Linked DNA regions of Homo sapiens: regions 2, 3 and 4 are each linked to region 1. The links come from fine-mapping of genetic effects on gene expression. A gene starts in region 1. Each other region holds a variant in brackets. All regions are shown on one strand. Distances are between the middles of the regions.

Region 1 (5,000 bases):
CTAGTCTCGAACTCCTGGCCTCAAGTGATCTGCTCACCTCGGTCTCCCAAAGTGTTGGGATTATAGGCCTGAGCCACCGCACCTGGCCAGCCCAGCTAATTTTTTAATTTTTTTCTGTAGACACGGTGTGTCACTATGTTGCCCAGGCTGGTTTTTAACTCCTGGGCTCAACTGATCATACTGCACTGCGAAGTGTTGGGATTACAGTCATGAGCCACCACGCCTGGACTTTCGTTGGTTTTCCATGGCTTCCACAAACTCCTTCATATGGCGAACCAGGCCCTCCTACTACTTCTCCAGGCACCTTCCCCAACCCTCCTTCACCCATTCCTAAATTCCAAACTCCCTGATTTACTTACACCCCACAGAAAAAGAAAGCTCTCATCTCTATGTCTATGCACATCTATTCACACTGCTTAGCTCTGCACATGACAAGCAAACTCCTTCTCATTTCTCATGACTTGTGTAAAAATTTTAAAAGAATCCTATTGACACAGAAGGTATAAGCAAAAGCCCCAACACTACGCATATATAATTAAAACCATTATCATTTCTATCACTGACAACCAAGTGTCGTTTTGAATAGAAACAGTGCCTGATATTTTGTAATACCCGGTTTATCCTGAAGAAAGGGTAAAGAATGAGGGAAGAAATCTATTCATGCATTTTCAAGGAGCCAATCACTAGACTACAGAGCACATAAGAAAAAAAAAAATCAGGGCTGACATATTCTCTTCAAAGAGCTGTGGCAGGTCAACAAACATAGCTGGCAGACTTCTAGGATAACAAAATTAATGATGTGAGAAAATTAAACAATTTGGATTGTTAGCCTCTACGAACATTTCAGATCCTTAATTCTTTAAGTACCATCTCCGAATGAGCAAGTGCAGCACTCACTGGCACTCACAGCTGAAGCCTGGAAGACAGTTTTAACAACTCTTGCTGAAAATGACTATTTCTTCTCTAGTTTCTATGGAAACAGCTGTCAGATTGGCAAAAATAGGACATGTACTTTAAAATAATCATTCAAGCAAAGTACACACATGATGGAAGGCTTTAAAAAAGAATTGGACGGCAGCAGACTTGGTTCTTAAGCTTCCAAATGTCAGACTACACCCCTTCACCCCGGCTGAGAATGACGGAGATGAACCTAAATCCTTTTAGCGAGGGTTGCACGACCTTGATCAACGCCTGAATGCCAAATAAGGGATTTTCATCTCCCTGGACTACAATTTCTTGTTGAGGATTGCACGGCACAATAAAACTGTTGCTCCACACACAGGCGACATTTAAACAGTATACAGTGAGTTCTGTAGACGAGTTTACGAGGAAATTGTTAAAACTCCCCGGAACTGCTTAGACGGGGAATGTTCTGGTTTGCCCTGCCGAGTTTAGGCTGGAAAACGTGTTCAGTTTCTCCTGAAGAGGGAAGGGGTGAAAGAGACGAATGCCCGACGCGCCGGGAGGCGGTCCCCTCTGGCAGAGGTGCCGGGTGAGGAGCCCGAAGCCCCGCGGGTGAGAAACCCTGCTCTGAAAGCGGAGCCGCGGATAAGGGCGGGCTGAGGGGGAGGGCAGGCGGCCCACGAAAGTACTGCCACGGGGCAGACACACGGGGTCACCGGCGTGCCCCGGGCAAGGCTAGGGGAGAACCGGGCTCCCCCAGGACAGATCCCCTCCGTCTCCCGCCCCGGCGCCCCCCGCCCCTCCCCTCCACGCAGCCTTATCGCCCACCCACGCCTCCTCCCGTACCCCCATCCCCAAGGATCCCCACTCCTTGCCCGGGCGCCCCCGCAGGCGCTCTGCGCTCCGCCCCCTCCCCACTGCCGCACTCTGCCTCCTCCCCTGGGCACGATCCTACTCGGAAAAGCTGGGGAAAAGCGTCACCGTGAGGACTGACTCAAGCAGAAGCGAAAGCGGTGACACCGCAGACCCGACCTATGCGCAGGCGCGCACCCGCACTTCCTGCCCGCCATACCGGCCGGGGCGCCCTTCGCTCCGCCCACACCCGGCAGTCAATACAGCCGCCCAGAGTCGTTCTCCCAGCTGCCCCGGGCCCCGCGGAGACTGTGGCGCTCTAGCGCCTCCGTGTGGCTTAAGGCGGGACATGGCCCTGGGCTGGGCTGCTTGCCTAGGAACAACTTTCTCCCGTCTTTGGTGAGTTGGGTCCTCTAAAGAATGATCCACGCAAGGCTGTGTCCGTTGTAGTCTCTACGGCAGTACCGGCCAAAAGGGAAGAGACTCGAAGACTGCCAAAAGACGAAGGCTTCCTGGTTCTGAATCTGCATTCATAGAAATAGTCTTTGGAGTATGGGAACAGTGCTTTCATATGATTTTTGGAGGGACGCATTTTAAGAAAGATGAAGTATAATCTTAAGTGTCTGGAGGTTAAAGTAGCTGGCTCCAAAATTATGTGTATAGTATGTTTCATTCATTTCACCAAAACATATTTCTTGAGCATCAACTACATTTTAAGTGCCAAGGATGTAGCAGTGAACAAGACAGACCTGAATTTCGTGAACTTTATATCACAGTGAGGAAAGACAGGCGATTAAAAAAAAGTGTACAAATAAACACAAATAAATAAAAGTGTACAAATAAGCCAGTACAAATAAACACTGGATTGTGATGGATGAGTAGTGAGGTCTCATATTAGTTTATTATGTTTACACTCTGTGCACAATGAAAACATCTCAAAGGACATAAACACTATGTCAAAGGACATAAACACTATGAACAATTTTAGGTATCTCTTTTGGAAAATGTGTAAGTTACTGTTTCGTTTATCTTATGTGTATTTTATGATTTGCCTTTTACTTTGAAAGGGATATCCTGGAAAACCCCTGACAACTGGACCCCTAAAAACTGAAGTAGGAGGTCCTTCAGTCTTCGTAGGGTTTATCTCCCAAACTCTGGAGTGCACATGTCTTACCAAAGTTTCCAGCATGCTAGCCACCTCTTGCTCATCTTGCCTGGTTAGCATAATGTCATTGGTGAAATAGATGGGTGTGATGTTCTCTGGAATTTCCAGTTGATCCAGCTCCTTTTGGACTGCGCAGAGCCATTATGTCATTATCCTGGGTCCACCTGATTTCCAAAGGGGCCAGACTGGCAAGTTAAGTAGAGATATGGCAGGGATGACCAACCACTCTTGTATATTTCAGGTCTTTAATTATGACATTAATCTCCACCATCATCTCACTATCCCCTCAGATGAAATATCGGTTTTGATTTATTATCTTCACTTGGAAAGAAGGACAGCTTCAGAGGCTTCCCATTGGCTTTCCCCACCATGATAACTCAAGACCAAGGACCCTGAGCTTCTTACCAATGTGGAGATTGCTCCAGCTGCCCAATATGTACTCCCAATTATGCACTCAGGAACTAAGAAAATGACTACTGGATGGGTCAGTGTATTCCTGGACCCACTGTAAGCTGGACATTATCCAGGACTCTGCTTATTACCTGATCCCCATAAGCCCCCACACTTAGAGAGGAGCCATGTGTGTTACATACTTTGGGTAACACCTGTGAAATGTCTGGGTATTCCTCTTTCCTCAACATAAAATCAGTCAAGAAAATGGCCGTGGGACACAGACCAAAGAGTAATCATTAATTACAGTAAATATTTGTTTCAGTATTGCAGGATTCTTCTTTATAGGGACCCAACAACCTCTTAAGTCAACAGATTCTGTGGTCTCAGTGTGAAGATAGGCTCAGGTCTGAGACTTGAGCAATGAGCAGTGCCTTTTATTAAGCAACTACTCCCTGCATAGGATAAATAGCTTCTTGTCTTCCTCCAGTTGTAGATGTTAGGCAACACTCTTGTTGGCTGCCCGTCTGTTTTTCCCCTAGGGAGACCTTATGCTATTAAAGCCCTCCACAACCTCCTGTGGATCAAGCCCCCTTGGCTGCTCCTCTGCCCTTGGCAGATGTTACAGTAATTACATCTTCTGGTGTCCTCATGGTTAAAGCCACCACCTGGCTTCTACTACTTCAGGATCCTGTTATCCCAATGGATATTATCAAGCCCAGCCCTGTGATTGCCTCTCCTACCGTCAGCCCTTCCCTCCAGAGGAGAGCCTTCTCTGAACTTCTTAGTGATGCTAGTGCCCCTCACGCCAGTGCATTCCCCATGGCCATAGAATATGATGCATCCTCTGGGCCTCCCATGGAACATTCCCCTCTGTCTGCCTTCGGGCTCTACACACAAAAAAAATTCTTTCAGGCAAGTCCACTTCCCTCAGCTCCTCTGTCCTTCTACCATTTGCAAGGGCAATTCGGGCATTCCTGCTTTACTCTGCATGCACTATGGCTTTCTCTCAGCTTCTAATAGTCACCTAGCAGTGAGTTTACCCATCTTCTACAGTCCCAAGTCCCAAGAAAGTGCCCCCAAGACAATGAATTTTTATTTAGCCAGGCTTGTTCTGGAATAGGAATTAAAAGAAATTAAAGAATGTGTAAACAGAAACTCAGTTCTATGTAAGAAAACCCACCTCCCCCCGAGAAAGAGAAAGAGCTGGAGTCCTTTAAATATTAACTGCCTGTTTTTCTGTGGCTAGTGAGCCTTATCTCTCCCTTTCCCAGGCATTGTAAAGACCCTGTTTCTTTAGCTGTGCGCTGCAAGGTCACTAGACAGATAAACTCAAGCCATTAAGACACGTTTTTCCTTGAAAAGTAAGAAATGATGTAATGCATGCCTCAATTAATTAAATAACTGTCTTTGTTTCTTGCTTCTGTAACATGCTTCTCCCTGCACAGATCTCCCCCAACCCCATAAAATGCTTAAAAGGTAACTTGACTCTTTGTTCGGGGCTCAGTCCTTTGGATGTTAATCCGACTGGGCCGGTGCACCTAAATAATAAATCCTCCTCAACCTCTTGGTATCTCTGATTCCTTATCAATCCCGCCACAGTTCCTGCCCACTTTGATCAAGCACCTTCAGAAATCCCATTCCAGGGGTCCTCTCCTGGCTCCTGCTGGTACACGCTAGGTAGTTCCTT
Region 2 (7,881 bases), 41 kb after region 1:
GGGGATGTGGAGGTGTTTGCTGTTTTTAACCACTTTCAGCTGTCCTTGAGATAAGGGCAGGTGGTGAGAGGTCTTAAGTGGGCTGCTGCTACTGACAAATTCGTCTGCCTTTCTGGACAGTCCTGATCCAAGTGAGGCTCCTTAGAGTTATCAAAAGGGGTCTTAGAGGACATGTATTCCAGTCTCCCACCCAAAGAGAGGTATCTCAGAATGCTAAACAGGTGCTTGTAGGCTACCTGTGATAATGCAACATCCTTACCTCCCCACAAGACAACCCATTCCAGTCCCAAGCAGCTTTACTAAGAAGTTCATCATAATTAAGGAAATTCAGTGCCTCTGTAATTTTCACAAACTGATCTAAATTTCTACTCTTGGAGCAAGAAAGAGTAAGTAATGTTCCCCTTTCACTCCTTGGTTCCTCAGGAATTTGAAGCCAGTTCTCCTGTCCCCAGACTTTCCCCTTTCCTGCTCTCTCCCTGCCTCTTCCATTGCCTTTCTCTAGTGGAACGTCCCTATCCCGTCATCCTTCCTCCTGTGCCAACCTCACACCCTAGGTGGTGGCAAGCACCATCTCCACCAGTGGCCCAGCCCAGCAAATGACATTATGAGAGATACCAGCAGAGGATTCTAGGGAAGCTTTGAGGAGGTTTTACTCCTGTTGTCTTGCCTTTCTACTCCCCTGTCTAGGAAGGCAGGAGTAACCCTAACAGCCCCTTACCTATCTATCAATTTCCTCTTTTCTAGGAACAGATGGTTTCTGGGCAATACTTACAATAAATATCTACACTGTATTGAGAGCCTATTACCAGCCAGCAACTCAACATGTGTTTCCTCTATCCCTATAACATCTGAAGGGAGTGGGTTTTGTTATTCTCACTTTACAAATAAGGAAACAGGCAGAAGGGCGCTTGTCTAAGAATACACAAATAGTAAATGGAACAGCTGTAATTCACATTCTTTTCTAAACATATTTTAGAGACAGGATCTCTCTCTGTTGCCCAGGCTAGAGTGCGGTGATGCAATCATAGCTCACTACAGCCTCAACTCCTGAGCTCAAGTAATCCTCCCACCTCAGCTTCAAGTAGCTAGGGCTTCAGGTACGTGCCACTGCACCCAGCTCACACCCCTTTTTGCCTGGTTCTGAGATTATGCTTTTTCTGTGACATCATGCTGCTACAGACCATATAAATTTCCTGAACCCAACATGTTTAAAACTCCAGCATGGTAGTATAGAAGTTCACTGGTATACAAGTTCAAGTTATACCCTAACCTCTCTTACTCATGCTGAATCAGAACATCAAAAATGGCCTCTCAAGAGAATCCAAGTAAGGATAAGGCTTTGATTTTATCCGACAACTTACTACCTTTAGATGGTATGGATAGTAAGTTTTGCTATCTTCTCCTTTTGGGAAGACAGACAAGTATTATGGACACTGCAGATGAATACAGTACAGCCTAGTGCAGGTGAATTTTGTTTTGTTTTGTTCAAAACAAGAAAGCAGAACAGAACCTTTCAGTCTCCCTGGTAGAAGATGCTCTCCTTAGCTCTTGTGCTGCCCCTCCCACAGACATTAATACCCAAGCTACATCCCTGGCATGGCTTACCCTCCTGCTCCTCCCTGCGCCTGTTCCTGTCCATCTCAAGACATCTCCAGTCACATCGGTCCAGGGCTGAGTGTGCTGAGGGGCTCAACTGCACTCCTACTCTCAGCCGTCATGAGTCACAAGACTCACACCAGGGATGGAAGTAGAGGCGAGGAGGAGTGGGAGAGAGGAAAAGTTCAGAAGTCTAGGAAGAATGAGGCAGGCAGGAAAGAGGAGACTTCATTGTTCTCTAATTCTGGGATGTGTGGGCCCAAGACAAAGGGCAAGAAAGTCCTTGTTGTTCCTCTGACCTTAGTGGGATGTAAGAAAATGGATTAATTTCTTTGGATTCATGTGAGAAGTCCTGGCTCTGTCAGCTGATCTTCAACTAGCATCTTTCAAAGCATGACTGATGGGAAAATGAGGACTGCCCTCAAAAGCTTCTCCAAGATCATGGGAGGCTGCCAATTGGAAGGTACCAGAAACCAACACAACTAAATTGCTCAGCACCCTGAACCTCTTTCCCCACCCACACTACTGATTTTTCATATACTTTCCAGCCTTCTATTCATCCGTCTCTTCAGCCAGGCAGGCAGGCAGGCAGGCATCCTCACTGAGTGCCTCCCAGGTGCCAGGTCTGTATTGGGCTGAGGAGGTACAATGGCAAGTTACACCTAACCCCTGGCTCCATGGAGGTTACAGTGCACACAGCAACTACCTCCTAGTGGGGGTTTAGTACATATTTGTTAAATAAATAACATGGAAACATATGAATAACTACAATATGGATTTATAAACCATATCTCCTGTCCTCTCCACTTATACAGATTATTTATATAGAGTTGCAGGATACATCAGTAGAAAAACCTCACTGGCTCTTAAGGTTGTCTGTTTTTCTCATTTTTTAAAGGTAATGAGTATGTAGCAATTTGGAGGTGGGAGCAAATACAATCCAATAGATAACATTTGCATTTTAAAAGGCATCTGAAATAAATAACATTTAGGCAGAAAAGACAACCTAAACAGATAGCACATGAGGAAAAAAATCCAAATAAATAACATTGAAGAATGTTAAGGCTGGAGATAGCCTTCCAAGAAAGCTAGTCCAGTAGTTCTGTTTTGAGTCACAGAATCCATTTCTGAAGACAGTGATGGATTCTCTCTTCAAATAATGCAACTGTGCACAAAGACAGTATATTTTGCACAGATTCCAGAGTCACAGACTCCCTGAAATTCATTTCAAGGACCTTCCTGACCTCAGTTTTAAATTTCTGGTGGGACTCATCACCTTCATCTCACTTAACAGGGACAGTGAAATGACTTGCTCAAGATCATCAGCCAGTTAGTGAAAACATTAGGCAGTTTGGTCTTAAGAAGGAACTCAGAAACCAGTTGCCTGAGTTCAAATTTTGCCTTTGCCATTTACTAGCGATTTGACCTCAATACATCATTTAACCTCCCCCTGCCTCTATTTGCTCATCTGTAAAATGGGGATAATAATAGTTAACCTACTTTGCAGGGTTATTGTGAGGATTAGGAATTAATCCATGTTAAAAAAAAAAAAAAGTTGGAGCAGGGGTTGGTTAGCAAACTAGTTAGTTAAAGGCTAGATAAACAATTTAGGCTTTGTGTGCTAAGGATCAAAATTAAAGATGAGACTGGGTGCGGTGGCTCATGCCTGTAATCCCAGCAGTTTGGGAAGCTGAGGCGGGCAGTGGCTTGAACCCAGGAGTTCGAGACCAGCCAGGCAACATGGCAAAACCCTATCTCTACAAAAACTTTAAAATTTAGTCAGGTGTGGTTGTGTGTGCCTGCGGTCCCAGCTACTTGGGAAGCTGAGGTGGGAGGATCACTTAGGCCTGAGAGGTCGAGGCTACAGTGAGCCTTGTTGGCGCCACTGTGCTCCAGCCTGGGTGACAGAGCAAGACCCTGTCAAAAAAAAAAAAAAACAAATCAAGATAATTAT[GA/G]AGTACTTATATAATTATTTAACAATGTAAACAACATCTCGGCCAGGCTCGATGGCTCACACTTGTAATCCTAGCACTTTGGGAGGCCAAGGAGGGTGGATCACTTGAGCTCAGGAGTTTGAGACCAGTATGGACAACATGACAAAACCCCATCTTTAAAAAAATCCAAAAATTAGCCCAGCGTCGTGCCATGTGCCTGTAGTCACAGCTACTTGGGAGGTTGAGATGGGAGGTTGGCTTGAGCCCAAGAGGCGGAGGTTGCAGTGAAGTGAGTTGTGATTTTGTCCAGCCGGGTGACACAGCCAGACCCTGTCTCAAAATTTAAAAGTGTCTCAGCCCATGGACCACACAAAAACAGAATTTGGCCAGTGTAGTTTGCTGACCCTTAGCTTAAAGCAGCACCTGGCACACAATAAATGCTCAATAAATGGTAGTTTCTATTATCCAAATCAGGGCTCTTTCGATTGCTCTGAACTGCTTATGCTCCATGTAACATAAATAACAGGAAACAAGGTGCGGGCTGACCAACTTAGCCAACCTGTTTGTTTAGACACAAGCCAAAGTTACCAAGATGTAACGCGTCTCCGTGCTCCTCCCTGTATCAGAGCCTTCCTATTCGTGTCCTGCTCCAGTAGGTAAAGCAGCCAATGCTCTAACTGTTCTCAGGGAAGCCTCAAGTCAGGTGCCATATGAAGACAGGCGGGAGGAGCTGGAATGGTTTCTGGGCAGAGGTAGAGACCGGAGAAGAAGAGAGGGGCCCATCCCACAGCTCTGAGGTGTCCCAGACTCTGGAGCACTATGCTATCTTCCAGCTGTGGCATCCTGGCCACATCCTGCCTCTTGTACCTGTAGAAGGCCAGTTCTGTCCATCAGCCACCTCCTGCTACTTTAGAGCAGCCCTGCCTGGGGCAGATCCAGACATAAATTCAACCACAGCTCTGAGTTAGAAGGGACCCCATCATCTACTTCCAATCACCCCATTTTACCAATAGGAAAATTAAGGCCTGGGTTGGAGAAGTGACTTGCCTGAGGCCGCATAGCAGGCACAGTTATGCTGGGATTAAAAACCCAGGCTCCTGCCTCCCAGGCCAGTGCTTTTTTCTTGCCTGAGTTCCTGCAGGTTTCTCTTTGGCGCATAATGGAAATACCAGTGGAGTTGTCTGGTGCAGTTTTTTATGCTTATCAGAGAGCAGCTGGATTTGATGTAGATGCAGCCGTCTTCAGAGGGTATTCTCTTGTTTATCAACATTCCTTGAGCTCCTTCTATGTGCCAGGCTGTGTGCTGAGCACAAAAGATGAAAAGAGAGCCAATGTCTTCTTTCAAAGACTCAGTTTACAACTGGATGTGATTATTGTTTCTCATTGGTTGGTTTGCGTATTTGTTTGTTCATTCAACAAACATTATTGAGCACATACTTTGTGTCAGGCATGGCACTAGATGCTGGGACTAAGCATTAGTAAAGCCTCTGCCTTTGCAAAAATTATGATCTAGTGAGAGAGATACACAATAAATGAAATAAACACAGAATAGTATGCACATAGGTGTTTGAAAACAAGTTCTCCAGGAGAAAAAAGAAAGTACCCTAATTTGTAGCCTTTGGTGATTTTCAAGTAGCTAGTCAATGGTGAAGTCAGGATTTGAACTCAAGCAACTGGTTTCTGAGTTCCTTCTTAAAACCAAATTGCCTAATGTTTTCATTAACTGGCTGTGTGACCTTGAACCAGCCATTTCACTATCCCTGTTAAGTGAGATGAAGGTGATGAGTTCCATCAGAGATTCTAAATTGAGGGCAGGAGGGGCCTTAGTGTACTCTCCCTGTGACCAATTTCAAGCTATCAACATGGTGTCACTGAGTGCCAATTTGGGAGTGATTCACACAGCTGGCTCTTGCAGCCCCATATTGCATGGGCCCTAGACAGATGACAAGTGCTCTGAAGGAAAAGAAGCAGGTTACAGGGTGGGAGAGTGAGGGAGGCTGTGCTATCTTAGATTGGCTGGTCAGGCAGGTCTTTCTGAGAGGCAAGATTTGAACAGAGACCTGAATGAAGTAAGGAAGCCAGATATTTAGTGAATATTTAGGAAATGAGCATCCCAGGCAGAGGGAACAACACGTGCAAAGGCCCTGAGTCAGGACTGTGCTTGGCCCTTTGAGGAACGGCGAGACCAGTCTGCAGTGAACACAGGATTTAGGGGAGCACACAGAGGGGGAATTTGAATTCAACAGGTATGTGCAGCAGTAGTGAGGGCAAGAGTTGTTAGCTGGACAAAGGGATGATATTTGCAGGGTATCTTAAAACATGAGGACAGGTTTAACCAGAAGGGTTGGAGTGTGGGCAGAAATGGAAAGAGAAGAGAGCTCTGGAAAGAAAGAATGGTGTGAGCAAAGGTGCCAAAGGTTGGAACAGAGTAATATGGCGGGGGATTGGGAGCATATGGCCAGTCAAACCTGCACGGGTAAGTGAGAGCCACATCGTGAAGCTAGTGATAGTTTTTCACCTGGGATAGACATATAGGCAGGCATTTGTGGAGGATAAATTTGACAGGGAGACACAAAAGGCAAAGAGGCTACTCTGGAGGCTACTGGTACAGGATAGAAAGGATGGATGAGTGCTTGATTTAGGGAAGAGAGAAAAGGATGGACGTGGAACAATAACCTCATGTCTCTGTAATGATTTACACTAAGGGCTTTCATGCATGCCATTGCTACTCACCTTCACAACAGCCCTGCGAGGTACATGGGATATGTGGTGTGGTGGGTTCAAGATGGTGAAAAATCTTTGACACTCCTCCCTTCACTTCGCCTTGAATCTGGGCTGGGCCCATATCTCATTTATAGCTAATAGAATGTAGCAGAAGTGACACAAAGGGACTTCCAAGACTAGGTCACAGGTAACCATTTTGTTTCTGCCTTGGCGTCTTGGCATGCATGCTCTATGGGAAGCCAGCTGCCTTGTGAGAAGTCTGACTACTCTAAGAAGAAGTCCCAGCTAGAGATGACACATGGCAAGAGAGGTGTCCAACCAGCGTCCAGACTTGCAGCCTTCCCAGCCCAGGTAAGTAAAAAAGCCACCTTGGACATCAAGCCCAGTCAAGCCTTTGGATAAGTCCAGCCCCAGGGGCCTCTGACTGCAGCTGCGCTAGACCCCAAGCAAGAACCACCCAGCTGAGTCCAGTCAACACGAACCCTGAGAGGTAATAATTGTTGTAAGCCATTAAGGTTTAGGGTGGTTTGTGATGCCACAATAGATAATCAGAAGATACCTGATATTATCCCCATTTTAGATGGGGAACTGAGGCTCAGGGAGATCACGAGGGCTTGTCCAAAGTCATATGGCTAATAAATGCTAGAGCCAGAGCCAAAATCCAGATGTGCTGACATTTATAACTGTTGTTTGGACTCCTTTCTGCTCTGTCATTACCATCCTCTCCCATGCCCTGGGCCCAGAAAGGTTGGGGAGGGAGGGAGCCAGCCATCTGAGTCTTTTTGCCAGCCCAAAGGAGAGGTCTACTCATGCCATTTATAGCAGCCCAGTTCTCAGGGGGGTTAGAGAAGTGTGTCCCCTCCAGCATCCTGATGCCCAAAGGGTACTCCCTTCTGGCATGTCCTCATGTTCTTCCTCTCTCTATTCAAGTCCTTCTGTCAACCAGCTGTCCCCTTGGGAATGAAGAAACGCACATTTACTGAGCATCATCTGCCTAAGCATTTTTACATGATGTTAGCTCATATAATCCATATGGCATGAATACCAAGTAGATACTGCCACAATTGGTGGGAAACTGAGGCTCAGAGGGGAAGATCTTTGCCCAGACTCACACAGCAAGTGAGTTTCAGAGCCTGGATTCCAACCCAGATTTCTCTATTCTACCATCTGCATTCCTTCCACTGGAAGATGGGGCTAATGTTATGCAGACATGCCACCAGAGCATCTGATGTGACACAGGTTCTCAGTGTATGCCACATTCCCTTCCTTTTCCCTCCCTCTATTTCTGCTCCATCCCAGAGAAATTCAGAACCTGCCAAAAGGCAAGAGAAGTCCTTGAGTAGAAAAATAAGACTCAACAATTATTGAACTCTCTGTGATATAGGCTCAAGGATTATCTTATTCTCACAAATACACTGTGAATTTAGGTGCTGTTATTAGCTCCACTTTCCATCTGATGAAGTCAAGGCTTAGACAGATAAGAAACTTGCCCAAGATCCTACAGCTAGTAAGGGATGGATTCAAGATCGAAACCCTGGTGTTTTTGTCTCTGAAGTTCATGCTCTTAAACAGCAAAGCCTACCTCAGCCCCTGAACTGGGAGCTCCCATGCCAGCTGCATGCCTGGC
Region 3 (7,881 bases), 22 kb before region 1:
CCACAGAACACCACCCGCAATGGCAGGATCCACTTTCAAGTGCACGTCATTTTGACAAAATTGATCACATCCTGAGCCACAAAGCAAGACCCAACCCTTTTCAAAGGATTCCAGTCATTCAGTATATTATCCAATCAGAGTGTAACTAAGCTAGAAATCGAAAACAAAAGGTAACTTTAAAATCATCAAATGTTCAAAAACTAAGCAATATACTTCTAAATAACCCATGGGTCAAAGAAGAAACCACAGCGAAAACAAGAATACATTTTAAACTGAAGAAAAAATAACATATCAACCCTTGCAACATGACAAGTAAAGATGCTCTCAGAGGAAAATGTACGGCCTTAAATGTATGTACTAGAAAAAAAAAAGAGTTTAAAATAAATGATAGTAGTATTCATCTTAAGTTAGGGAAAGAACCACATATGAAACCCAAAAAATGAATGCAGAATAAAATAATGAAAAAAAATGGTAACTGACATAACAGAAAACAATTATATAATAGAGACAATAAGCAAACCCAAAAGATGGTTTTGAAAAGATTGATGAAAGTGATAAAATCTAGCAAAAAAAAGACAAGACAAAGAGCACCAATATTAACAAAGGGGACATTTAAAAGATACATGTAAAATAACAGGTATCCTTCAGACATTAAAATATAATAAGAGTATATTAAAACAACTTCATGCCAATGATTTTGAAAATTAAACAAAAATTCCTAGAAAAACTACAAAAACTGAAACAAGAAATAGAAAAATCTGAATAGTTCTATATCTATTAAAGAGACTGAATCCATAATTAAAGACAAACTCATGAAGAAATCTTCAGGCCCATATGGCTTTACCCAGGAATTCTCCAAACGTTTAAAAAATAAATATAGCTAATCTTACAAAAACTCTTCTGGAGAAGAGAAAATGAAGAACACTTCCCTGATCAATTTTATGAGGCCAGCATAACTTTGATTCCAAAACCTGACAGGACATTACAAGAAAAGAAAATTCTAGGCGACTATCTCCTTTGAACATAGGATAAACATTCTAAACTAAGCATTAAACCAATTCTAGCAATATATTAAGGGATAATTGACAAAATTAGGTATATTTCCCCAAAAATGCAACTTAACTTTAAAAAAAATTAATGTAATTTGCCCAATAACAGATTAAAGGAGAAAAATCATATAATCATCTCAATACAGGCAGAAAATGCAGGGGGAAGGAGAACATCAGGAAGAATAGCTAATGGATGCTGGGCTTAATACCTAGGTGATGAGTTGATCTGTGCAGCAAACCACTGTGACACATATTTATTAATGTAACAAACCTGCACATCTGCACATGTACCCTGGAACTTTAAAGTTGAAGAAAAAGTGCAGAAAATGCATTTGATAAAATTTAATATATATACATAATTTTTTTAAATCTTAGGATATTAGAAATGGAAGAGAAACTCTTTCATTTGATAAAAAAGTATCTATAAAAAGCTTACAACAAACATCATAATGGTGAAATACTGAATGCTTTCTTGCCCCTAAGATCAGGGAGATACAAAGTTGCCCATCACCAACTTTGTACTAAAGTTTTTGGCTATTGCAATAAAGCAAAAATTAAAAAGTACAGTTGACCCTTGAACAACATGGAGGTTAAGGGCACTGACCCCTCTGTGCAGTCAAAAATCCACATGTAACATTTGACTCCCCCAAAACCTAACTACTAATAGCCTACTGTTGACCTTGCCAGTAACACAGTAAATTAACATGTTTTGTATGTTATATGTATTATATACTGTATTCTTACAATAAAATAAGCTAGAGAAAGGAAAATGTTATTAAGAAAACCATAAGGAAGAGAAAATATATTTACTATTCATTAAGTGGAAGTGGATCATCATAAATGTCTCCATCCTTATCTTCACACTGAGTAGACTGAGAAGGAAGAGGAGAGTTGGTCTTGCAGTTCCAGGGGTGGCAGAGGTAGAACGGGAGACAGGAAAGGCAGGCATAATCAGTGTAACTTAATGGAGATACTTTGTAATTTCTGTTGTAAAATAAGTCAAAAGTAGTCTTGAATAATCAGAATCCTTCTGCTAGATTGTCTAATGTCAATTTGTTTTCTGGCACTACTATGTCTTTTCTACCTGGCACCATTTTGGAAGCACTCATCTCCATCAAGTCATCCACGGTTAATTCCCCTGATAAGGTGTTTCTATTAGCTCTTGAATTTCTCTAAGATCTGTATATTGAAACCCTTCACTCCCCACCTTTTTTGCCATATCCATAATCTTTTCATCATTTCCTTGACTGGCTCTGTGTGGTCACGCACAACATCTGGATAGTTTGCTTCATCAACAATTTATTATTTCAGGCTTGGTGGCTTTCATGGCTTTTTCTATAACAATGATGGAATCTTCAGTGGTGTAAACCTTACAGACTTTCATAATGTTCTATCGGGGTTCTCTTCAATAGCAGTAACAACCTTTCCCTAAAGTACCCTGTTGTACTGAGCCTTAAAGGTCCTTATGGCCCTCTGATCTGAGACTCAACTAGGAATGTTGTGTTTGGGGGCAAGTAGACCATTTGGACGCCTTCAGTGTTGAACTCATGGGGTTCCAGGTGACCAGAGGAATTGAGAATGTAAAAAGAACTGGCAGTCCTGGCCGGGCGCAGTGGCTCACACCTGTAATCCCAGCACTTTGGGAGGCCAAGGAGGGCGGATCACGAGGTCAGGAGATCGAGACCATCCTGGCTAACACGGTGAAACCCCATCTCTACTAAAAACACAAAAAATTAGCCGGGCATGGTGGTGGGTGCCTGTAATTCCAGCTACTCGGGAGGCTGAGGCAGGAGAATGGTGTGAAGCTGGGAGGCAGAGCTTGCAGTGAGCCGAGATCACACCACTGCACTCCAGCCTGGGTGACAGAGCGAGACTCCATCTCAAAAAAAGAAAAAAAGAACTGGCAGCCTTTACTGGCAAGATAATTCTTAACTTTAGGAACAAAGCATGGATGGAACCAATCCAGAAAAAGCGTTCTCATTGTGTAGCAGGCCTTTTTGCTTTACAACCAAAAGACTGGCAGCTGGTATTATCTTTTTCCTTAGAGGCTCAGGGGTTACCAGCTTTATAGATAAGGAAAGTACTTACAAATCCAACTCCATTTCCGCAAAACAGTAGAGTTAGCATATCCCTTCTGCCTTAAATCTTGATGCTCATTAATAAATGTCCTTTATGGCATTATCTTTTTTCCAGAATAGCACACTTTCATCTGCATTAAAAACCTGTTCCGGCAGCTATTCTTTCTCCTTAACGATTTTCTTAAAGCATCTGGGAATGCATCTGCTGCCTCTTGGTCAGCAGAAGCTGCTTCTCCTGTTATCTTGACATTTTTAAGCCAAATCTCTAAAACTATCAAACCATCCTTCGCTGGCATTAAATTCTCCAGCTTTAGATCTTTCATCTTCCTTTTAAGTTGTAATATAATGACTTTGCTTTTTCTTGAATCATATTAGAGTCTATAGATAGGCCTTTCTTATGGCAATCCTGCACCCACATAAAAGGTGCATCTTCTATACAAGATAAAAGTCTTTTGCAAAAAGTGCAAGGTTTTCATGCTTGCTGGTAGAGTTGCAGCTATGACTTCACAAATTTTCTTTTCCTTTTTTCAACGGTCCTTATTCTGGATTCGTTTATGTTGAAATGGCAGGCAACCACAGCTGCAGACCTCAATCTACAGTATATATCAAGCAACTCAACTTTTTCTTGTAATATCATGAGTTTACTTCCTGGGAACATTTCCAGTATCACTAGCAGCAACTCATATGGGTCTCATGGTATTACTCAAGGTGTTTACAGTATTGCACTAAACACAATGAAAAATATGCAAGAACTGCAAGAGACCATTTACTAAGATACTCAATTTA[C/A]TGGAGAGAAAGCTGCTCACATGGAGATGATTAGTGTCTTCTGGTGTTTTAAGTAGATATTCACAATATTTGAGATCACTGCATTAGCAACAGGAAGTGAATACAAAACTATAAGAGTAGTACCATAGGTACCACAGTTAATTCTATGCAGTTATGATTTAATACTGCATCTTTCTGTTTGTTTACATTTCTCTCAACTGCAAATGGCACCATGTATGGTCTGTGTAGGCACACGTTTTGATAAATTTTCATAACCGATTTGTGTTTTATGGTAAAAAATTATAAAAGACTAATATCTACATGTATTTTATGCATTCATGACATATCCTTTTCTTAATTTTTTCAATATTTCTAAGCTACATGGTTCACCTGTGAGTTTTTTCAAATTGTTGCACATTTCCAAAAAACCTTCCAATATATTTATTGAAAAAAATCCTATGTATAAGTGGATCTACACAGCTCAAAAACATGCTGTTCAAGAGTCAACTGTATACAGATTGGAAAGGAAGAAATAAAGGTTGCTGGGTACAAGGTCAATTATAAAATCAATTGTATTTTTATATACAAGCAATTTACTTTAAAAATGACACTATTTATCATGACATCAAACACTTAGCAATAAATCTAACAAAAGATGTGTAATTCCTACATACAAAAAAATTTCAAAACATCGAGAAAAATTAAACATCTAAACAAACTGGAAAATATATCATATTTATGGATGGGAAGAATCAATACTACAGACACTAGTCAAGTGTCCCCAAATTCATGTATAAATGCAATGCAATTCCAATCAAAACCCCATGTGTTTTTCTATGTATGTATAATTTAATAAGCTATTTCTAAAATGTATATAGAAATGCAAAGATCCAAGAAGAGTCAAATCAATTCTGCAGAACAACACTGGAGGACAGAAGCTTCAGGTATCAACACTTACTACAAAGTTATAGTGATAATATGGTACTGGCTGAAACATAAACAAGCCAATGGAACAGAATAGTGTGTCTAGAAAGAGACCCCAGATATACTCCCACCTTTATGACAAAGAGACACTGAAGTCTGGTGAAAAAAAGGTGACTTTTTTCCATAAACAGTGCTGAGTCTATTAGCTATCCATAGGGGAAAAAAAAGATGTTGCCCTCTTCCTCATATTATATATTTTAAAAATAGTAAAGTTTATTAGAAATAAAGCAGGAATAACTTACTGAGATAAACAAAGATTTCCTAACCAGAACACAGAACACACTTAACATATAGGGAAAATCTGACAGACTGGAGTACATGAAAATTAGGAAATTCTTAATACAGCCAATCTGTGGCCCCCTTATGTGGGAACTTCTTAGTGCACGCAGTCTGATAATTCACTTAATCACATTTATTTAACATTCAAAGAACTGATTTTGCTTTTGTGAAGGAGTAATACCTTGATTTATGAAATTAAATCCATAAAACTTATGAGAGGTTCAAATAAAATGATTAATAGTTTTAATAACTACCAGAAACATAACAAAGGATCAATTAAAACTTGAATTTAATATGTGAAGTGGCATTGCTTTCACTCATTTTTTTAAAATGCAGTTTTACTTCTAATCTTAAATGCTACTAATAACACTCAGTTATCACAGGTGATTAAAAATAGCTGCCAGGTGCCCTGTTAAGTAGACAGGAACAAAGTCAACTTAAATAAAAGTAAAGGCCCAGAGCTGCTCTCTATGGCTAGCAAAAAAAAAAAAAAAAAGCCATCTGCTACAACAAAAATAACCTAAATGTCTGTTCGTCTACTGTTTATTTAAATGGTAGAAAATCAGTTTGCTTAGCCAAGATCATAGCTACAACAGGATCAACCTATCTTCAAGTGGGGGAAAACAACTACCTATCAACCTGTTTACTCAAAAAGCCTCCTTAGATCAGAGAAGCAAGGGGTAAAATATTGGAGTACTGGAGTAAAATAAAGAGATAGCATTAGCTTTCCAGAGGGACAAATGTTAAAAGGCCAGAGGGGATGACACATTACATAACCAAATGTTTTAAAATTTCAATTTGTATGTTTCATGTCTATGATCAAAAAATTTATACACGCAAAAAATTATTTCCAATCAAGAACTGACTTTCTTTTAATAGAACCTGATAATTACTATAATCTTATGGATTCTGTCTAAGGCATAATACAGCTTCAAATATAGAAGGGAATTGAGACTCTTCAGTTATACATTCTTTCAAGGTCCATAATCTTCAAATTTCTAGATTAACAGAAATTACATAAAGGGCTAATACAGTCCAACTCTCATTCTCTGCTTATGCCAAGCCTCATTAAAATAACACACGTTTATCTTTCAGCCTGGGAAGGGCATTATGTATTCTCAACTACTAAACACTTTACCTTTGCAGCAAGCAGTAGTCCAATTTTGTCAGCTTCGGCCTCCAATTTTCTGCTGTATGGTCTATTAAACATATACTAAGAAGAAATGACAGAAAAGCTCCATTAAGACAATTTATTTCACGAAAAAAGGAGTAACACAGAGAGATTTTTAAAAAACAGTTTCATGGAGTATCTAGGATAAAATTCCTATACTGTCTACTAACATTAAAATAACTCCATGATATAAAATATAAACACAGCCTTTATTTCCCTGATTAGAAATACTTTAAAAAATGATAAGGATATAAGTCATGCCTATAAATTTCTTGACAGTCTGTAGTATAAGGAATTTACTTCTATTTTTCCAATTATAGTCTCCACCTACTGAGTACAGGATTCACTAAGAAAGCTTATTGATGAAGGCTTTTTAATATGGTCAAGGAATATTTTGACCTTGAGTTTTAAAAGAAAATCAAGAAAACGTAGGCATATAATATCCAATGACACTACTAGACAATTTATTTCAGTAAAAAAATTAACCATATAGCAGAATGCTCTTTCTTTGATAAATTATCTTAATTTCCTTTTTCTTTTCTAAGTATTGATTAGTTGGGAAAATGAAATTTTCTTCTGACTTCAATAAAAAACACACATAGATACAGTAACTTTAATTTTCCTAATTACTTGTATTTATGTGAATGCTTTCCAGTTAAATTCTAATTTTCAGTAAGTACTAAAACTTTGTAGGAGATGAATCAATAGGCAGGACTTTTGAGAAAAGAGCTATTAATTGGGGAAGCAATCTTTCAAAGGTAGCCACATGTCTGTGATGGCCTGAAATAATATAATAAATCTGATATACAGTATGTGACCATTACAAATGACTTCCTTCCTTTTCAATCAGTCTGTTTTAGGTCAATGATGTATATCATATAATGCCTTCACTCCCCATGAGCAGGCTGCATGTGCCCCCGTCAAGTCTATTGATAACATAAGGATTTAAAACTGTGGCTTTAAAAAGAGAGAAACTTAAGTTCAAGTCCAAATACTGTTAACTTATTGTTAACCCTGAGCTAATTGTTTAACCCTGCTAAACCCAGTAGTATCATATGTAAAATGAAGCTAGTAACAGTTCCAAGCTCACAGAGCTGCAGAGGGGATTAAATGAACAAAAATAACAGCTCATATTTATTGAGCCCTGATTTGTGCCAGGTACTGTGCTAAGTGCTTTAAATTAATGATTCTAAACCTAGTGTGATTTTGTCCTCCAGGGACATTTACAAATGTTTGGAAATATTTATTACTGTCATAACTGAGAGGAGGGAGAGCTACTGACATCTAGGGAATGGGGGTCAGAAATGCTACTAAACATCCTACAGTGCACAGGACAACTCCCCCACAACAAAGAATTATCCAGTCCAAAGTGTGAGTAGTGCTGAGATTGAGAAATCCTGCTTTAAATGTGTCATTCGGTCCTCACAACAGATGAACCTCAGCAATTCCCACACCCTAATGACTTCACTATCAACATTCCTCTCTGCTCTCCAATCACAGTGAGCAACTTTCTAGAGAGAAACATCTCCTCGTCACCAAAATTATTGAGGGGCCT
Region 4 (7,881 bases), 27 kb after region 1:
TTCATTAAAGGCAGAGACTCTACCAGTCAGGATTCTTGGCTGTAAGCAACAGAAAAGGATTCTGGCTAAACTTAAGCATAAAAGGAATTTATTGGAGGATTTGGATTAAGTTCACAGAATCAGTGGGAAGGCTGGTGAATCAGACCCAGAAAATGAACAGGACCTAAGGTTGCCTAGGCAGCAGGGGATGTGGCCAATGTCAAGCTGTGGGGCAATCCGATTGGGATATTCTACCAACGCTGCTGCCACTGGACACTGGCACCCATGGAACAGCTGTGCTCTTGACAAAGCCAGTACTGTTCTGAGAAAATTTCTCAATTGTCCTGATCTATGGCTTCATATCCTCTAGGTCTCTGCCCAGGCAGGAGAGTTCAATTGGCTGAGCCATGTCACATGCCCATATCCCACCTGCCAGGGAACAGGACCATCAGGCCTCCCATCAAGGTTCACACAATGTGGGTGTTTCCCCCATTGAAAACATTGTGGGGATGCCAAGTAAGAAAAAAAAGAGCAGCAGAGAAACCGTATCTGTTCAATTCATATGTTCCCCAAACTAGTATGATATCTGGCATCAAATAAGACAAAAAATATTTGAGGGAACAAATAAATGACCAACGCTAGGCATCTCTGAGGACACAGACTGTCCAACTTGTGCCTGCTTCAGGGTAACTGCTCACAATCACTGGGGCCTTTGCACTCCAGCTAGAGCCAACACTGGTCAAACTGGCTGCTTAGTCGAGATCACCCCAGTCCCACTGAGGTCAGATGAGGAGCCAGGAGCTCTATGAGCTAGAGTGAGTGGATATTACTAGACCCATTTTATAATGCAAATGTGAGGTTCAGGGAGGTGAACTGCCATATTCAAGATAATACAGCTGGAAAGCAAGAACAAGGACTTGAAGACTCATCTGCTGGCATAGTTTAGTACCTTTTCCCACCTTCTGTATTATGTTGCTTCAATTGCATATGACAATGTGCTTCACATAAAAATATTTGGGTGGCCAGGACATTTCCTCCAACAGTATCAGATAACAAGGGAGTGGAGAGTGCTGAGGCCACCTAAGAGATCAGCTACATCCAGCATGGGAGAAAGCTGGGCACAAGGATTCCAAGGAGTTAATGCTTATCTAGTCAAGATCCCTTTCCTTGCAAGGAGACAAGATGCCTTGGTAAGCTGAGCTGCCTGCTGATAAACTGCTGGTTAACATGTTCAGGCTATCACTGTGGATCATTTATCTTTCCCTTCTTACCCAGATCAATTTGGCCTCCTTGTACATCATGAACCTAAGAATTTCCACTGAAATTGATGACATATGGCTTGCTGCAGTGCCAGGGGACACAACCCCCCTGTTTACAGTATAATTCCCTAATAGTGAATGGGCCCAGCCCCCCATCCATCCCCATCCCTCCCAACAATTCCTTCTTTGAGCTCACTATAAAAGGCTATAATGAAACCTCTAATGATATTTAGCAATGACAGGGAATGGTTCCAGGAGGGAAATTACAGCTGGAAGATGTCCACCACGACCTGCTAGTAATTGTAAAGGAAATCTACTCAGGTCTCAAAGGGTCCTTTGTTTTATATAAACAGGAGGCTTCCAAGGTTGTTCTAGCCTCCTCTAATAGCAGAAGTCTATGGAGAGATATCTCCTTCAGAAAGTGGAGTGGAAGTTCTGTTCACATTACATTAGAAAGAACTCACTCATTACTAGTATTTTTCCCCCAAGAACTTGGGGGACCTTCCTCTAGTTCTAACAAGAGTGACTATTTACTAAATACATCATCAGGAGACTAACCAGGGAGGCAAGTGGAACACCAGACAGGATAGAGTCAGGGTGTTAGAGCTCTAGGGTGGCTCTGCCCCTCTCTGTCTGACTTGGGTAAATCCATTCTCCTCTATGAGCTTCAGTGTCTTCATCTATAGAATCAGAATGTTGAACTAAATGACTCTCTAAGCTTTTTCCAGCTCTGACATAACATTCTGTGATTCCACTTGGAAAATGGTAAGCAAAAAATTTGTAAGCAGAGGGAGGAATGGGTGATCTTTAAAAAAATGCTTCAATAAAAGAAACAGAATGGATAAAGCCCTGGTGACCTACACAAGGAAATCAGTCAAGTGTCCTCAGGAGGCTCAGAAGGCAGGCTGCAACTTGCTGGGCAAGCCACACCTGCTCCTCACATTCCTTCCAAGGGCAGCCCCAGGTCTGAGCTCTCGGCAGTGAACCAGTGAACTGTAAGGTATTTTTTTGTTTGTTTGTTTGTTTGTTTTTGGTGGGGAGGTGGGTGGAATCTTGGAGGCAGCTGCTCAATCCCTGAAGATAGCTGGTTCTTAAGACCCGACCCCAGCAGAGGAAAGCTGATTTTCAGAACAGAAGCATGAGGGGGCTCTTCCTTGGAAGAAGTGAGTAAAAAAAGGCATCTTAACCTGCTGGCTACCCAGCAGGAACAGGAGGAAATAAGTATAATGGAGACATGTGGCTAGTTTTTACAGCTAATAGGTAAAACACATCTTTAAAGCACATTAACAGTAAAAATCTTAGCTACACAAGGCAAAAGTCCCAAGCCCCATATTTGGTATATGCAGGGTGTGTGTTCATGAATTTACTCAATGTCTTTCAAATCTCAGTTTGCTGACATGTGACATGGATGTAATCTAAACAATTTAAAGTACATGAAACTTTCACTAAGCACCAGATTGTTTCAGACGCTCATATCAATTACTTCATTTAATATTCATAATAGCGAGAGAGGGATTTATAGTTTCATTTAACTAATGAGGAAACAGGGGAGGTAAGTGACTTCCTGACCCAAAGGAATAAGATTTGACCTCAGGTTTGTCAACATTTGGGTTACTTCCAGTAAGTCAATGGCTCAAAGAAGATTATATGTGTGAAAACGCTTTGCAAATTATAAATGCTATAAAGTGCAAGAAGTCACAGTCCTGAATTAATGCAGAAACCTAAATATCATCCAGAAGCAACATTCTGATGGAGTAAGGGGCTTTTTCAGGGAGTCTGCTTTGTTCAGTTGCCCACTGGATCCTTTATTTTCCAGGCAGACAAGTGAGTTTTTAAAAGTGACTCTTGAAACAATGAGGCTTTCTGGTTCCAGCTGTGCTACAGAAACATTAATCTTGAGAATTCACTTGCTCTTTTCATGTGTGAAATGCGGGGTTAGGTCACAGGTGATCACCAAGGTCACTTCCGTCAAAGCACTTCAGTGACTCAGAAGTGGAAAGCACCCAGTGAGACCTAGAGTGGGGAGTCTCACTCTCATTGTTAGAGAGCCAGTTCTAACTTCAGGTACTTGGGCCACCCTTCCTACTGTAGGAGAGCCTGCTCACATCCACCCTCTCCCCTTGGTAAGTCTTATTTGACCCTGGAAGGAAGTTTGGAGCCTGGAGGAGTTTCTCCCTTGATGAGTGGCAGCAGACTTTGAGATCTCTGGCAATCCCACAGTATCCACTCCACCAGCGCATAGCAGCCACAGCCCTAAGTTGAGAAGCCAGTAGCTGAGAGCTATCTCTCCCCAATTCTTACTGGTGTTTCAGTCTTGGGAGGTCCTCATAGACTGTAGAAACAGGATGGGAGGAGGGGCATGAAATGGATTCCAGGGGAAGAAACTGCAGTCCTGGATCTAGCTTAGCTGTTGCTGAATATGTGATATACCAACCACTCCCTTCCTTTGTACACACCTAGTGTTGTATCAGTTTCTCAGTTACTGTAGTAACTTGTTTACTTGTGGGGTACCCCACAGTCACACACATAAATGAACGTGAATGACTGAAAAGTAAGAGATAAGTGTAAGAGGGACAAGTGGCTAGTTTTTACAGCTAATAGGTAAAACATATCTTTAAAGCACATTAATAGTAAAAATCCCTGGGTGCAGTGGCTCACACCTATGATACCAGCACTTTGGGAGGCCGACGCAGGTGGATCACCTGAGGGCAGGAGTTCAAGACCAGCCTGGCCAACATGGTGAAACTCCATCTCTACTAAAAATGCAAAAATTAGTTGGGCATAGTGGTGGGCACCTGTAATCCCAGTTACTCAGGAGGCTGAGGTAGGAGAATCGCTTGAACCCAGGAGGTGGAGGTTGCAGTGAGCTGAGCTCACTCCACTGCCCTGCAGCCTGGACAACAGAGCAAGACTCCATCTCAAAAAATATATGTAATAAGTAAAAGTCTTAGGAAAACAGCCTGTGCACACCCAGCAAAAGTGTAGGGCCCACTGCAGACTGGCTCTAATTATGTGGGAAAGTCGTTTAATCTTAGAGCCACAACGCTTTGAGATTAAGTGATTTGCTCAAAGGCTAAATGGAAATAGTACCACTTATTTCAAAGTAGGGCTGGGATTCAAAGGAGGTACAGCTCTTGAACTAGAGTTTTCTGTCTCCATTGGTGATAAGCCTTGTTTAGAGATGACCAAAGACTGGCACTCTTTTTCATAAAAGCAGCTAGTTTTAGCTTCCTCCCTCAAGCTCACCCTCCTGCAGTTTGAAGGAAGTTTCCAAATAATCTTATTTAGAAAGAATAGCATTTACACTGGCCAGTTAGGATATCTTAGGACACACCAGAGTAGCAACATGAAACACCCACTTCTGGGGGAAAAAAAAGTGTTATAATTTGAAATAAAAAAAAAATACAAGTCTTGGGAAATTAGAGACCAATGTGATAGAAATCTGGAGGGACTTTTCACAAATGCCGACTTCTGGTTTGTGCCTTTCCCATATTTTATTAAATTCGTGTTTTATTTTAAAAAATTACAGCAACATTATCAAAGACAACATATGTACAAACATTTTACAAAAAAGAACATTACCAATATCAGTGG[C/T]AGTAAGGGCAAGCTGAAGAATAAATAGACTGAGTTTCCGGGCAATGTCTGTCCTCAAAGACATCCAAACTGCGTTCAGGCAGCTGAAACAGGCTTCTTTCCCAGTGACAAGCATATGTGGTCAGTAATACAAACGATGGTAAATGAGGCTACTACATAGGCCCAGTTAACAAACTCCTCTTCTCCTCGGGTAGGCCATGATACAAGTGGAACTCATCAAATAATTTAAACCCAAGGCGATAACAACGCTATTTCCCATCTAAACTCATTTAAGCCTTCACAATGTCGCAATGGATTCAGTTACTTGCAAACGATCCCGGGTTGTCATACAGATACTTGTTTTTTACACATAACGCTATGCCATCCCTTCCTTCACTGCCCCAGTCAGGTTTCCTGTTGTTGGACCGAAAGGGGATACATTTTAGAAATGCTTCCTTCAAGACAGAAGTGAGAAAGAAAGGAGACCCTGAGGCCAGGATCTATTAAACCTGGTGTGTGCGCAAAAGGGAGGGGGAAGGCAGGAATTTGAAAGGATAAACGTCTCCTTTGCGCCGAGGAATCAGGAAGCGTGACTCACTTGGGTCTGGGACGATACCGAAATCCGGTACCCCACCCCATCCCCTGCCCCGCCGGGTACCTACAAGCTCGGTTCCTTTCTCAACTCCCCCAGTTCCTTGATCTCCACCTTCTTGTACTTCCCCGACTTTCTCCGGTTGGTGATCACCAGGACGGCCATGCCGGCGACGAGGGCCACCACGACCACCACGATGACGGCGATGAGGCCGGCGGTGAGGCGCTTCATGGAGAACTTCGGGGGAATCTCGTCCAGGTAATAGATGAGCGTGCGCTCCACCTGCAGGGGTTCTCCGCGCACGCGCAAGTCCAGGCCGCCGCGGCCCTGGAATAGAGACTCGCCCTTGATGTCCCTCTCGAAGTAGTAGGCGGCATCGCCGATATCCACGTCACCGGCGGCCTTCTGAGACGTGTTCTGCCGCAGCTCGATCTGGATGGTGGGCTGCTCGTAGTGCACGGCCGCCACGAACTTGGGGTGCAGCCGATAGCGCTCGCGGAAGAGCCGCCTCAGCTCGGCGTCCAGGTCTGAGTGGTTGAAGGCGCCGGCGGTGGGGCGGTGGCGCAGGTCAATGAGGATGTGGTGGGTGCGCACCAGCTCATCGCAGCGTAGGCTCAGGTCGCCCTTGTCCGTGCGGCGCACGCCCACCGAGTTCACGCACCAGCACACCGACGTCTGGTTGCACTGGCGCGCCTTGAAGCGGCCCTCGGGGTCGCAGTCGGGGTCGTAGAGGCCATCGTTGTCCACGAGCGCGTGCTCACTCGGCCGCACCAGCGTGCGGGCGTTCTTGGGGGCGCTCATGCGCGCCTTGAGCAGCAGACACTTGGAGGTCAGCGTGGAGCAGTCGACCGCCATGCCCGAGCCCAGCGCGCGGCACTGGCAGCGGCCGCCGGGGCCGTCGGGGCTGCACACGGTCATCTTGTTGGTGGGACACGTGCAGTTGTCCTGCGCGGCCGTGTGGCCGGTCACCGCCGCCAGCACCAGCAGCAGCAGCGGCAGCCGCAGCGGTGGCGGCGCGAGGCCGGGGCCCCGAGCCATGGTGGGGCGGAGGAACGCGGACCGGACGCGGGCGGATGAGGCGCGGGGACTCGTCGGGGCTCGGGCTCCGGCGTCTGGGATGGTCTGCAGGCGTCTGCCGCCCGGCCGCTCCCTCCGGCTCTTATACTCTACCCGACCTGCCCGGCTGGTTCCACCACCGACCGTCCCCACTGGTATTTGGGTGACACATCCCGCCCCCCTCCCCGTCCCACGGAAGGCCAAGCCGGCCCTGCGCCGCCCGCGATAGGATCAGAACAGGGAAGCTGCTCCCGCCTCCTCCGGACCGAAAGCCGGGAAGGGGAGAACCGATACTCACCTGTAGGCTTCTGGGGACCCGCCCTCGGCGCGGCCTCCTGCTACAGACCTGGCGCGTCTGGGCCGCTCTCCCGGCAGAAAGTCTAAAGAGTTTCATTGCAAAGTGTGGCTCGCGACTGTCGCGCTCTCCTCTATACGCGACTCCCTTTTCGTTCTTTCCCAGCCCCAGCCCTCCCTTAATTTCTCTCACTCCCTCTCTTCTTTGTCCAGTTCTCACAGTAGCACACGTTTATATAGTTTACAGTTCACAAACATTATCTCATCCTAACACCAGTCCTGACAGGTAGGGACTATCAGACCCGTTTTATAGGTGGTACTGATGAGGCTTAAAGACCTGAAGTCACACTGCTATCAACTTCCTCATATTTCTGAGAGGGGTCTTTGGCACCCTGCCTAGGAGTGATGAGACCTTAAATAAAGTGTTTGTGGACACGAAGTGACACAGAATCTGAAGGGAAGTTAGGGAAGCAGTTCTGTTACTCACCATATCAAGGGTAAAACACAGGTATCCTGGTGTCCAGAGGGTTAAAAGTTCTGTTAAACACTAATTTTCTGTACCTCACACAAGCGCACACACACAGGCACACACGCACATAATATTTATTTGTGCACTGGCTATAAAGAGACAAACAGGAACAAATTCTTAAAGAGCCAGCAAGACTGTAAAGAGTTTTTTGTACAATTTGATTCTAACACAGCAAATCGTTGCTTTTCTTTTCCTGTATCCCACGTAAGTAGCTGAACCATGTAAATAATGAAAGAATGGAGCCTGTGAGAAATTGCTTGTCTGCCACTGTGTGGCTAGTTTCATGGCATACAGGGGTTGCAATCTCTTTTTGAGTCATTGAGAAAGTCTAGAGTTTCAAAGCTGTGGTAAAATTAACAATAATTAGCAAGCTATAATTATTCCCAGGTCCTCCATCAAAGCACATTTTATATGTTCAGCATTTAATGTGCACCACCAGTCGTGCAAGGGTGTTGTTTAGCAGATGAAAGCCAGCTGGGCCTCTGTCCCATTAATTTTCACGCAATTCCTGAGGCAGGAAGATTGAAATATATTCTGCCTTGACAGACAGAGGAAGCAGAGACATGTGAGGGACAATTTCTTTTTTCTTTTTTTTTTTT

Evidence for each region. PIP is the estimated chance that this variant, and not a neighbour inherited with it, causes the effect.
Region 2: its variant is fine-mapped to the expression of OMA1 in whole blood (INTERVAL, PIP 0.98).
Region 3: its variant is fine-mapped to the expression of OMA1 in whole blood (TOPMed, PIP 0.94).
Region 4: its variant is fine-mapped to the expression of OMA1 in whole blood (TOPMed, PIP above 0.99).

The regions. Positions count from the first base shown.
Region 1 is chr1:58,544,806-58,549,805 of GRCh38, forward strand. It overlaps OMA1 (OMA1 zinc metallopeptidase), which reads right to left and starts at 1,921. Exons shown (of 9, transcript NM_145243.5): 1 at 1,898-1,921. It also overlaps a transcript of DAB1 not described here. RefSeq lists enhancers at 1,330-1,956, 2,170-2,359 and silencers at 1,570-1,659, 1,670-1,769.
Region 2 is chr1:58,584,804-58,592,684 of GRCh38, forward strand. No RefSeq gene overlaps it. Among named protein-coding and RNA genes, the nearest start is that of TACSTD2, 11 kb to the left of the region's middle. RefSeq lists enhancers at 1-487, 7,774-7,881 and a silencer at 1,554-1,848. The variant GA/G (reference allele first, on the strand shown) is at 3,551.
Region 3 is chr1:58,520,968-58,528,848 of GRCh38, forward strand. It overlaps OMA1 (OMA1 zinc metallopeptidase), which reads right to left. Exons shown (of 9, transcript NM_145243.5): 7 at 6,294-6,368. It also overlaps a transcript of DAB1 not described here. Among named protein-coding and RNA genes, the nearest start is that of OMA1, 22 kb to the right of the region's middle. The variant C/A (reference allele first, on the strand shown) is at 3,914.
Region 4 is chr1:58,570,716-58,578,596 of GRCh38, forward strand. TACSTD2 (tumor associated calcium signal transducer 2) reads right to left here and starts at 6,537. Exons shown (of 1, transcript NM_002353.3): 1 at 4,718-6,537. The coding sequence starts at 6,441. The coding sequence ends at 5,470. RefSeq lists enhancers at 3,015-3,214, 3,365-3,454, 5,305-6,000, 6,001-6,695. The variant C/T (reference allele first, on the strand shown) is at 4,833.